3 linked regions of the Homo sapiens genome follow. The protein of the gene in region 1 interacts with the protein of each later gene in a pairwise test. Each region holds a gene or a part of one and is shown in the gene's direction. Other genes may lie near its edges. The genes, in order: EIF3E, PGCKA1 and EPAS1.

The links.
Region 2: the proteins of EIF3E (region 1) and PGCKA1 interact in binary tests that used the Homo sapiens proteins (3 or more experiments, as listed by UniProt).
Region 3: the proteins of EIF3E (region 1) and EPAS1 interact in binary tests that used the Homo sapiens proteins (3 or more experiments, as listed by UniProt).

The regions. Positions count from the first base shown.
Region 1 is NC_000008.11:108,200,711-108,203,872, reverse strand, and holds the end of EIF3E (eukaryotic translation initiation factor 3 subunit E), read left to right. Parts: intron 1-369; coding exon 370-472; intron 473-755; coding exon 756-890; intron 891-1,949; coding exon 1,950-1,988; 3' UTR 1,989-2,657; downstream 2,658-3,162. UniProt on the Homo sapiens protein: Component of the eukaryotic translation initiation factor 3 (eIF-3) complex, which is required for several steps in the initiation of protein synthesis.
Region 2 is NC_000004.12:37,587,310-37,590,061, forward strand, and holds part of PGCKA1 (PDCD10 and GCKIII kinases-associated protein 1), read left to right. Parts: exon of another isoform or gene 1-1,536; 5' UTR 1,537-1,558; coding exon 1,559-1,590; intron 1,591-2,752. UniProt on the Homo sapiens protein: Acts as a tumor suppressor. Acts as a tumor suppressor for colorectal cancer cell proliferation by targeting KEAP1/USP17/ELK1/CDK6 axis.
Region 3 is NC_000002.12:46,359,846-46,363,505, forward strand, and holds part of EPAS1 (endothelial PAS domain-containing protein 1), read left to right. Parts: intron 1-792; coding exon 793-911; intron 912-1,039; coding exon 1,040-1,245; intron 1,246-3,660.

The DNA.
Region 1 (3,162 bases):
ATATGGAGGGCTGACTTATATAGAGGGAACATCATAAAACCTTTTTCTCCCTTAGATCATTACTTCTTGAGCACCTGGCAAATGTAAAGTACTGTTCTAGAAGCTGAAGGATTTCCGTAAATGCAGAATATGTTACCCTACCCTCAAGGATTTTACAGTCCAGTTGGTGAATGGAATAGGTCGTGCATAGTACAAGTCAATAGGCACAAGCACATGAACAAATCAGACAGTAGGGGTCATGGTATATAAGAGAAGGGTGATCCAGAAATACCAAAAAGTATCTATGCAGAGTGTGAGTCAACACTGTGTACATAAAACTAAGTTTTTAGGCCCAGTTAATTAACATTGCTGTTTTTACTTTTTCATTAGCATGTTGGCAGATAAATTGAACATGACTCCAGAAGAAGCTGAAAGGTGGATTGTAAATTTGATTAGAAATGCAAGACTGGATGCCAAGATTGATTCTAAATTAGTGAGTATTATGTTAGCTATGCTACATACTATCAGTTCCTGATTATACTTTTGGGAATTCTTAACTAGGACATTTTATTACCTCCTTTAATAATTTATTTTGTTTTAATGTAAAACAGTTCTTTGAAGGCAACAGAAGCCTCCTATTTTTTTTCTTCCTTGGTAAATATTGTCATCTCTATACAGTGCATTAAAATATGCGCAAAGGTATGTCATGCTTTTTACTTACCTGAGAAACTCAGTCATTAACATTATAGGATCAATTTCCCTGTGTTTCCTTTTAGGGTCATGTGGTTATGGGTAACAATGCAGTCTCACCCTATCAGCAAGTGATTGAAAAGACCAAAAGCCTTTCCTTTAGAAGCCAGATGTTGGCCATGAATATTGAGAAGAAACTTAATCAGAATAGCAGGTCAGAGGTAAGAACCACACATCTTCTATTCTGTCTGGGGTTTAGCAACCATGTAATTGTTACATGAAGTTTCAAAGTGTATTGATGAGTTGTAGCTGATTTTGTTTTTCTCTTTAAAGATATGAACATTTTTAAGAAATTACTAAACAGAAAATTTTTTCTTAGATGTATTATATGCATTAAACATAGAAACTGAAAAAGAAATTGTGTTCCTAGTTTATTATAACTATTTTTCTTTTGCTTTGACTCTTCCTGTGTGACTTCATTAACTCATTTCCTCAGGGTTTTCAACACATCATTTTGATACTGGCAGATGATAACTTACATGTGTAGCCCTCTTTCAAGTGTTCGAAATGTGTATTCTTTCTAAATCTAAAGAAATAATTCTGTAAAAATGTTGATCTTATTATATGTATTAGTGCTGATCTTATACAAATTTCATTATCTTTCATCTGATATTCATATCAAAAATTAATCTCCCATTTTGATAGAGATCCTGCATGTTAGAGATTGAAGAAACTTGAATGGCCTTATAATTTTGGAATCCTAAACTGTGTTGTTTAGACATTATGATTATGTGTAACTGGAGGGTAGGAAGTCATTAGGAAGCAGTTGTGGGATATGCAGAGACCCCATTTGATTGAAATTTTAGGAACAAATTTGTGTCCGCAGAATAATCCTTTAGTTCAAATGAGAAGGATGCATTAGAATTCAAGTTGCATATTTTAGCCAAGTTTAGAATAACTGAGCCTAGAAAGTAACTTTCATATGATGTTTTTTTCTGTATGCTTTAGGATTAATTTGTATCATTTATTGTTCCAGTATTAATGATACTGTTATTGCTATATATTTTAATTGGCCAAAAGCTATACCAGATAATAATTTTGGTGTTTGTTTTGTCCTGAGTGGGACATCTGACATCTAGTAATTGCAGGAGTTAAGATCTTAGAATGGTTTGGCAAGAGACTATAGTGCTGAAGTAAATGCTGTGTTACTTTCTTCTATGTTAGTTTTTTTCCGAAAGTATTTTCTTTTCACGGTGTTGATTTCTTTTTGCATATTTTAGGCTCCTAACTGGGCAACTCAAGATTCTGGCTTCTACTGAAGAACCATAAAGAAAAGATGAAAAAAAAAACTATCAAAGAAAGATGAAATAATAAAACTATTATATAAAGGGTGACTTACATTTTGGAAACAACATATTACGTATAAATTTTGAAGAATTGGAATAAAATTGATTCATTTTATCTTGCTGTCAGTTTTCTTGCATGTGCAAGTTTGTGTTTTTTTAACTTTCTTTTTTGGAATAATTATATTCAGAGGAATTTGCAAAAATAGTACAGAGAAGTCCCTGTAGGCTGAACCCTGTTTCCCTCAATTTTTTCACTTTGTCTTACTATGGTACAGTATCAAAACCAGGATGTTGACATTGGTACAATGTGTGTACAAATAGCTCCCTACCATTTTATCACGTGTAGATTTGTGTAACCATCACTGCAGCCAAGATAGAGAACTATCATCATGATCTCCCTCATGCTACCTTTTTGTAGCCATACCTACTCCCAACCAACTCTAACCCTAGGAACCACTAATCTGTTCCTCATCGCTATATTTTGTCATTATGAGAATGTTATATAAATGGAATTACATAATACACAACCTTTGAGATTAGCTTTTTTCATTCATCACAATGCTCTTGAGAGCCATCCAAGTTGAGAGATAGATATATATATATATATGATCAGTAGTTAATTCCTTTTTTATTGCCAAATAGTATTCCATGGTATTGATGTGCCACGTGGTTTAACTGGTATTGATGTGCCATGTGGTTTAACCATGTACCTATTGAAGGATATTTTAGTTGTTTCCAGTTTGGTACTATTACAAATAAAACTGTTGTTCCTTAATTTCTTAAAAGTGGCTCCTCAGTCACTCACTGTATAGTTACGGAGACTAGGCATATAAGTTGAATTTTATAAGTGTCAAATGTTAAATACAGACATACTGTTTACTGGATACTGGAGGTATTTAAGAGCTACAGAGCCCTCACTGGGTCCCTTTTTTACATAGAAGTGGCTTGATTTTTCACTTTGGTTGAACTGACAGCCAGTCAGATAACAGAAACTTGTTGCTGCTCTCAAGGAGGAGGTTCAAAGATAAAAAGGTACATACTGTTCTTTTATTTGACATCTGATCAGGCCACCTTCCATACTCAGTTTAGAGACTACGGTAGTTAGGTTGCATCTGCCATTCAAAGAGCATGGAGACCTCCCAATACT
Region 2 (2,752 bases), on another chromosome or scaffold:
TTGGGGGCTGGGGTGGCATATAAGGTATTATTTATAGGTTCCAGGGATTAGGATGTGGATATCTTTGGGGGCCATTTTTCAGCCTACCATAGGGAGTTATTTGTGGATTTTATTTTTTTAATGTAAATCTAGTCCCTTTTAACTAAGCAACCAATCTGTACTTCTTAAAAAGCACCAGTCATATTCACTGTGGACAAAAGCTTATGAAGCAGCATCCCTGGAAATTCACCTATGATTGAAAGAAGGAAGGAGGGACAACATGGGAGACAGAGACACAGCCAGCAATGAATGATGTCTCTTTCTGGTGCATGTGCTTCATGGAGACAGGGAGACTGGGGATGCAGATTCTGTTTTGGCTTGTCTTTTTAAAGGCTGTAGGCCCGTCACAGTGGCTCATGCCTGTAATCCCAGACCTTTGAGAGGCCAAGGCAGGCAGATCACTTGAGGTCAGGAGTTTGAGACCAGCATGGCCAACGTGGCAAAACCCTGTCTCTACTAAAAATACAAAGATTAGCCAGGCATGGTGGCACCCGCCTGTAAACCCAGCTACTTGGGAGGCTGAGGCAGGAGAATCGCTTGAACCTGGGAGGCAGAGGTTGCAGTGAGCCGAGATTGCGCCACTGCACTCCAGCCTGGGCGACAGAGTGAGACTGTGTCTCAAAAAAAAATAATAAATAAAAATAAAGGCTGTAGATATTAGAAATGAATAATATCTAAGAGATGCTTCCATACTCATTTTTAGGATGTTCTGAGGAAGGAAGAGGCCAACATGGTCAGTTTTATATGAAGAGAAGATTTTGTTCCAAAGGAAATGATGGGGAAAAGCCCAGCTTGGGGAGGGGTCAGGGAACAGTGGGCAAGTGGGAAATGAGTCCACCTTCTGCCAGGAAGCCCAAGGGGGCATGTCTTTGAGCTGCAAAAGAACAGGTCCACAAATCATAGCTGAGATTGGCCCAGCGGTAGGAAAAGCAACACAGAATCAATTTAGTGTGGTTGAAGCTTGTGCGATGACTCGGGCTATCACGCTCCTCAGGGCCTGAATCATGGGACACAATGGATCCGCCAGCTTATTCCGGCATCCTTTAACTCTTGAGGAGCAAATGCCCTGGCAAGGAATCCGTCAGAATCTCCTTCCCCTCCTGCTGCTGCGTGCAGTGGGCCGTGCCCTGGTGAGGTTCCTGTGTCCTCTGTAGAAGGTAACAGATTAGAAAAGCAGAAGTCCCTTCTCTGTCTAGCATCCTTCCACCTTCTTCTCCTCATCTGCAAAATGGGGATGAAACACATAACCCCAGGGTTGGGAGAAAGGTCTGACACAGAGGCAAGTGTCAGTGAACGTTTGAGAACTCTGAAGCGGTGATGGAAATGGGGTATTCCTGGTAACCAGCACCCTCTCTGACCCACGTGGTAGTTATCCTTTTGCCAAAATGTGTGACTCTCTTAATACATTTTGAGTCTCTAGGGAAAAAAAAAGGCAAACTTAATTCCTACTAATATATCACTCACTGTGTTCTCTACCTTTTACGCTTTCTTTTCCAGGTGGTAACAGAAAACAATCCAGATGGGGTGCAGGTGCTGTAAAATAATACAAAGGTAAAGCTGGAGAAATACTACTTCTAAATGGAGGAATTTGTGATGAGCGTGGGGTCACTTTTAAAGACCATGCGTGTATTCAGTGCATTTATCCAGCTTGGGGCATGATCAACATTGCCAACACATTAAGAGTTTGGAATTGTTATAATATCATTTAAAAGAACATGTGCCCTAGATTTTTTTAACTTTTTTTGCTCACTTCTCAAAGCATGTTGGGAACACCATCATTTTCTGAGGCTGAATTTGGTCTGGGTTTCTGAGGATGCCTGAAATGGCATCGCTGAAAATAAATCACCCCAATCACATATGTGCTTTTAATTTTGTCCACATTGCATTTCAGAAAATTGTGAGTAACGTGAACATAAACTTCTAACTAAGAAAAAGGGTAACTGATGATCTTGCTTTCTTAACAAATATACTGTCTTTTTAATCATAGTTCTATTCTAGACCTATATATAAATAAGCTGTATTCCACTGTAATCATACTGTGATGTTTGGCTTTATTCAAAAACTATGTATTGTAAGTATCATTCCTGTGACTACAGACTTCATATTTATCATTTTAGTGACTGCATAATATTCCACTGAGAGGATATACTCCTTATGGCCCTGTTAGTGGACATTTGTTTTATTTGTTTTTTATTTTAAAATTCTATGAACCACTTTGTATTTTACTTCACCCCTTACCCCTCCTTCCTCCTTTTGGCTCTCTTCTTAAGAGTATTTCAGGCAGAACCTTGTTTATCTTTTTCAAGACTGTCTCGCTCTGTCATCCAGGCTGGAGTGCAGGGGCGTGATCTCAGCTCACTGCAGCCTCCGCCTCCCAGGTTCAAGCGATTCTCCTATCTCAGCCTCCCGAGTAGCTGGGATTACAGGTGCCTACCACCTCACCCAGCTAATTTTTGTATTTTTAGTAAAGATGGGGTTTCACCATGTCGGTCAGGCTGGTCTCGAACTCCTGACCTCAAGTGATCCACCCGCCTTGGCCACCCAAATTGCTGAGATTACAGGCGTGAGCCACCAAACATTTTTATACCAACTATATCTATTTGATTTAGACATACTTATCTAGGTTGAAAAGTAATCACAGAAATTAAATTAGCAGGAATCGTAGAAAGAAGCAGGGCCTGTGGTAAAAAGCATTAATGATGGAGCAGACCTG
Region 3 (3,660 bases), on another chromosome or scaffold:
ACTCTTCATTACTTTGTTTTACAAAAAGTGGAAAATGGTTCTGAATCGGGAGGCTGTTTGGCAACTATAAGGAAGTAAGCTATATTGCTGGTCTTGGTGATTTAATTTTTGCTGAGAGAGAGGATATGATCCAGGTTGAGTTAATCCATAAAGTGGACTTGCTCACCAAGTCCACTGTAAGGAGATTCGTACCAGAGTTCTCTCTAGAGCCTTGATACATATGTCACTTCAGGGACAAAGCTAATGGCATGGTATCCTGAACACAGCTATTGCAGTTTGCAAATGGGGTACAGGAGGGGTTAAATTCCTCCTGAGAGACAGGTTATAAAGGAAAGACGGGAGTGTCGGAGAGACATTTCTAACCTGTGAGGAAGGCTTACACCCTTGGAGTAACTGTGGCCTCACTCAGACTGTCCCTTGGAATTTCTGCGAGAAGACCTGGGCCTGCCCCAGGAAAGGGTGGCTGAGTTAGTGGCTGATAGGCAGTCGTTGTGTCGCTGCTCTGAAGGCACCACTGACCATGTTCCAGATGCAATGGGAAATCAAATGATGGAGCAGCTCCTCCCTTGTGGGAGTTTATGCTCCAGTTGAGGAGATAAGCTTGAGAGTGGGAACCATTAGTTCACAGGCCATGATGGAGCTCAGTGTTGATGGCAGACCACAGGTGCTAAGAGAGCAGATATTTGGAAAATATAAACAATAGGCTGCCAAGAAAAACTGCAGCTGGGCCCCTCTCATGAATATCCATATAAAACTGACTTCAGCTGGTTCTTCCCATCCTTCCACATCCAGGCTCTGGTTTTGGGAAAAAAAGCAAAGACATGTCCACAGAGCGGGACTTCTTCATGAGGATGAAGTGCACGGTCACCAACAGAGGCCGTACTGTCAACCTCAAGTCAGCCACCTGGAAGGTAGGGCAACATCAGGCCTGGGTTGGAGTCCCAGGTGTAGGGTAACGGCGGTGCAGGGGATGCCTAAGGCCCTACCCCCACCCCCAGCACTCTCGGCTCCATGTCTGACCCTTCCACGCCTGTCTCAGGTCTTGCACTGCACGGGCCAGGTGAAAGTCTACAACAACTGCCCTCCTCACAATAGTCTGTGTGGCTACAAGGAGCCCCTGCTGTCCTGCCTCATCATCATGTGTGAACCAATCCAGCACCCATCCCACATGGACATCCCCCTGGATAGCAAGACCTTCCTGAGCCGCCACAGCATGGACATGAAGTTCACCTACTGTGATGACAGGTAGGGGGCCATGGGTGTGTATGCTGTGGGCAGAGATGGGTCTTACCTGTGTGTGTGGGGAGTTGTGCCTGTATTAAAGGTGTGGAACTGAACATAGACGTGGTATTGCCGGGTGCATGTTCGTGGACCTGTGCCACTGTTTCATTGCATCAGTGCCCCTCAGAGGTTCCCGGTACTGTATTTGGTGGTCTCCCATTGACAGAGCCTCAGGGTCCATCTGCAGAGCTTTCCTGGTGTGCAACTCTTCTCATCATTGTGGTGTGAACATATTTCTCCATACGTGTATCAGGCTCCTGAGGAAATTCTCAAGGCAGTCTTCTGCCCCAGGAGAAAGAGTCTAGAGACTTCCATCTGTACTCCTGCTTCAGAGGCCAGTAAGGAGCATCAGCTTCTGCCCTGGAGACTGACCCTCTTCCATTACTGACTGAGCCTTTCCCTCCGCCTTGTTCCTTCCTGCATGCAACTCCATTCCGGCCAGTGTCCAGCCATTTTGAAGAAGATGAAGGTAGCTGAGCCAGATGCTAACCCCCCAGTGCCAGGCCCAGTGTCTCTTAGGAGACACAGTAGTGATTAAGAGCATGGGCTTCAGGACTAGATGGCTTAGGTTCAAATTTAGTAATAAATGTTCAGTGTTAGCTCTTATTATCACCTTTATTAGAGTTGTTGAAAGAGTGCCTAAGACTGCTTAGGCATGTCATGCCATCTCGGGTTCTTAGCTCATTTAGAAGATTGAAGCAGGTGGGGAAGAGACTGGGGTTGTCATAGGAGGGAGTATTTAGATACCCTACAGCTCCTAACTCCCCCACCAGCCCTGCCTCTGGGACTGTGGAGCCTGATGATGGGAGGTAGGAGGAGGAAGATGGGGAGAACAGATGCCCGGAGCAATGGCCGGCCCCAGGGAGGGAAGGAAATGCAGAAGACTGGGCCCAGGGTAGGCCTGGCTTGAGTAAGCGCCACTGGGGCTTGCTGAGCAGCACCCCCCGCATGCGCCCTTCCTGGCAGAGATCTCCCTGCCTGACCTCAGCTTTCTGCAGCATCTAGAGCCGCCATGTGTCCCAGGGTGACAGTTCCTGTGGCAGCTCTTTGCCACCCCCAACTCTTTGCCACTCTTCTCTCATCTTCTAGGGTTTCTCCTCAGGAAACCCTCAGATCTCAGTTTCCCCTTCTCCAAAATAGAGATAACACTTTCTAACCTGTTTCATGGGGTCACTGTAAAATGAGATAATGGCTGTGCAAGCACTTTGAGAAGTCCAGACACCACAACACATGTGAGGCTTCTTGTTATTGCTTATATCTTACTTCCTGTCCTTGGCCTCCTCCAAAGCAAAATCTTCCACTAAACTCAAGGAGCTGAAACCACTTCTGAAGGCAGTTAGTGGCTGGGGGGCAGGAAGAGGAAGAATCTGACCCCCAGATCAGCAAGAATCTGCCTTGTCTTCCTCAGCTAGCAGGAAACCATGGAACCCCAGGAAAAAAAGCTCCTGCTCAGCCTCCCCTAGGCCTACCCACTTTTCTCTTATCAGCTGGACATCCCAAGGGCATCTGGTTTCTTCATGGGAGGGACCCTCCTCTCCAGGATGGGGTTTCTCTCCTCTGATTCCAGACCGGCCTGGTGTTGGTTGGTCGCCCCTTCTTAGAGTTGGCCACCACTTGTGGCACAATTTCAGAACTTTTGTAAAAGTATCCTTGAGTCATTCCTGTCCTTCAGTTCTGACCACAGTAGGGCCAGGATTCACAGCCTTTGGAGCTAGTGGGTAGTTATATAAGTAGAAAGAAATGCTCTAACCTCATAGGGAGAAAATGTCATGCATGAAGCCTTCCGTCCTGGAACTTCGACACAGTCACCATTTATTGTAATTGTTAGTGGTGGTGGTGGTGGTGGTGGTAGTGGTGGTGGTGGTGGTGGTGGTGGTGGTGGTGGTGGTGGTGATAATGATGGTGGTTCAAGAAGAAGATTGCACTTTTAGTGACAGGCACTGCAGGAATCCATGTTATAGGTAAGGTTATTTATCAGATGCAGTCTTTGTATTCAGGTGAACATTCTGGGCAGAAGACACAGCTTTGTGTACCTCAGTAGTCTTGTGAGATAACATGGACAATCCCACTGCATAGCCCCTGTGTCACTGGCTTTGAGGTGAAGTGGCTCAAGCCGACGTAGCCATATAGCCTGGGAGCATATATAGTGCTGGGGATGATGAAAGTCAGATACGTGCTTCACCCTGGTGAATGAAGCACATCCGTAACATAACTCCATAAGCACTGGGAAAACCCTACTGTCCTAGAAAATAACTTGGCATCCCTACATAATAGAAAAGAGATTTTTTTTAAGCTTAAGATTTTGATCCTTGTTACAGTGAGAAGAAATCCTCTGGAAGGGGTAATTCAGCCTTATCCTTTATTCATTATCTTGGTTTA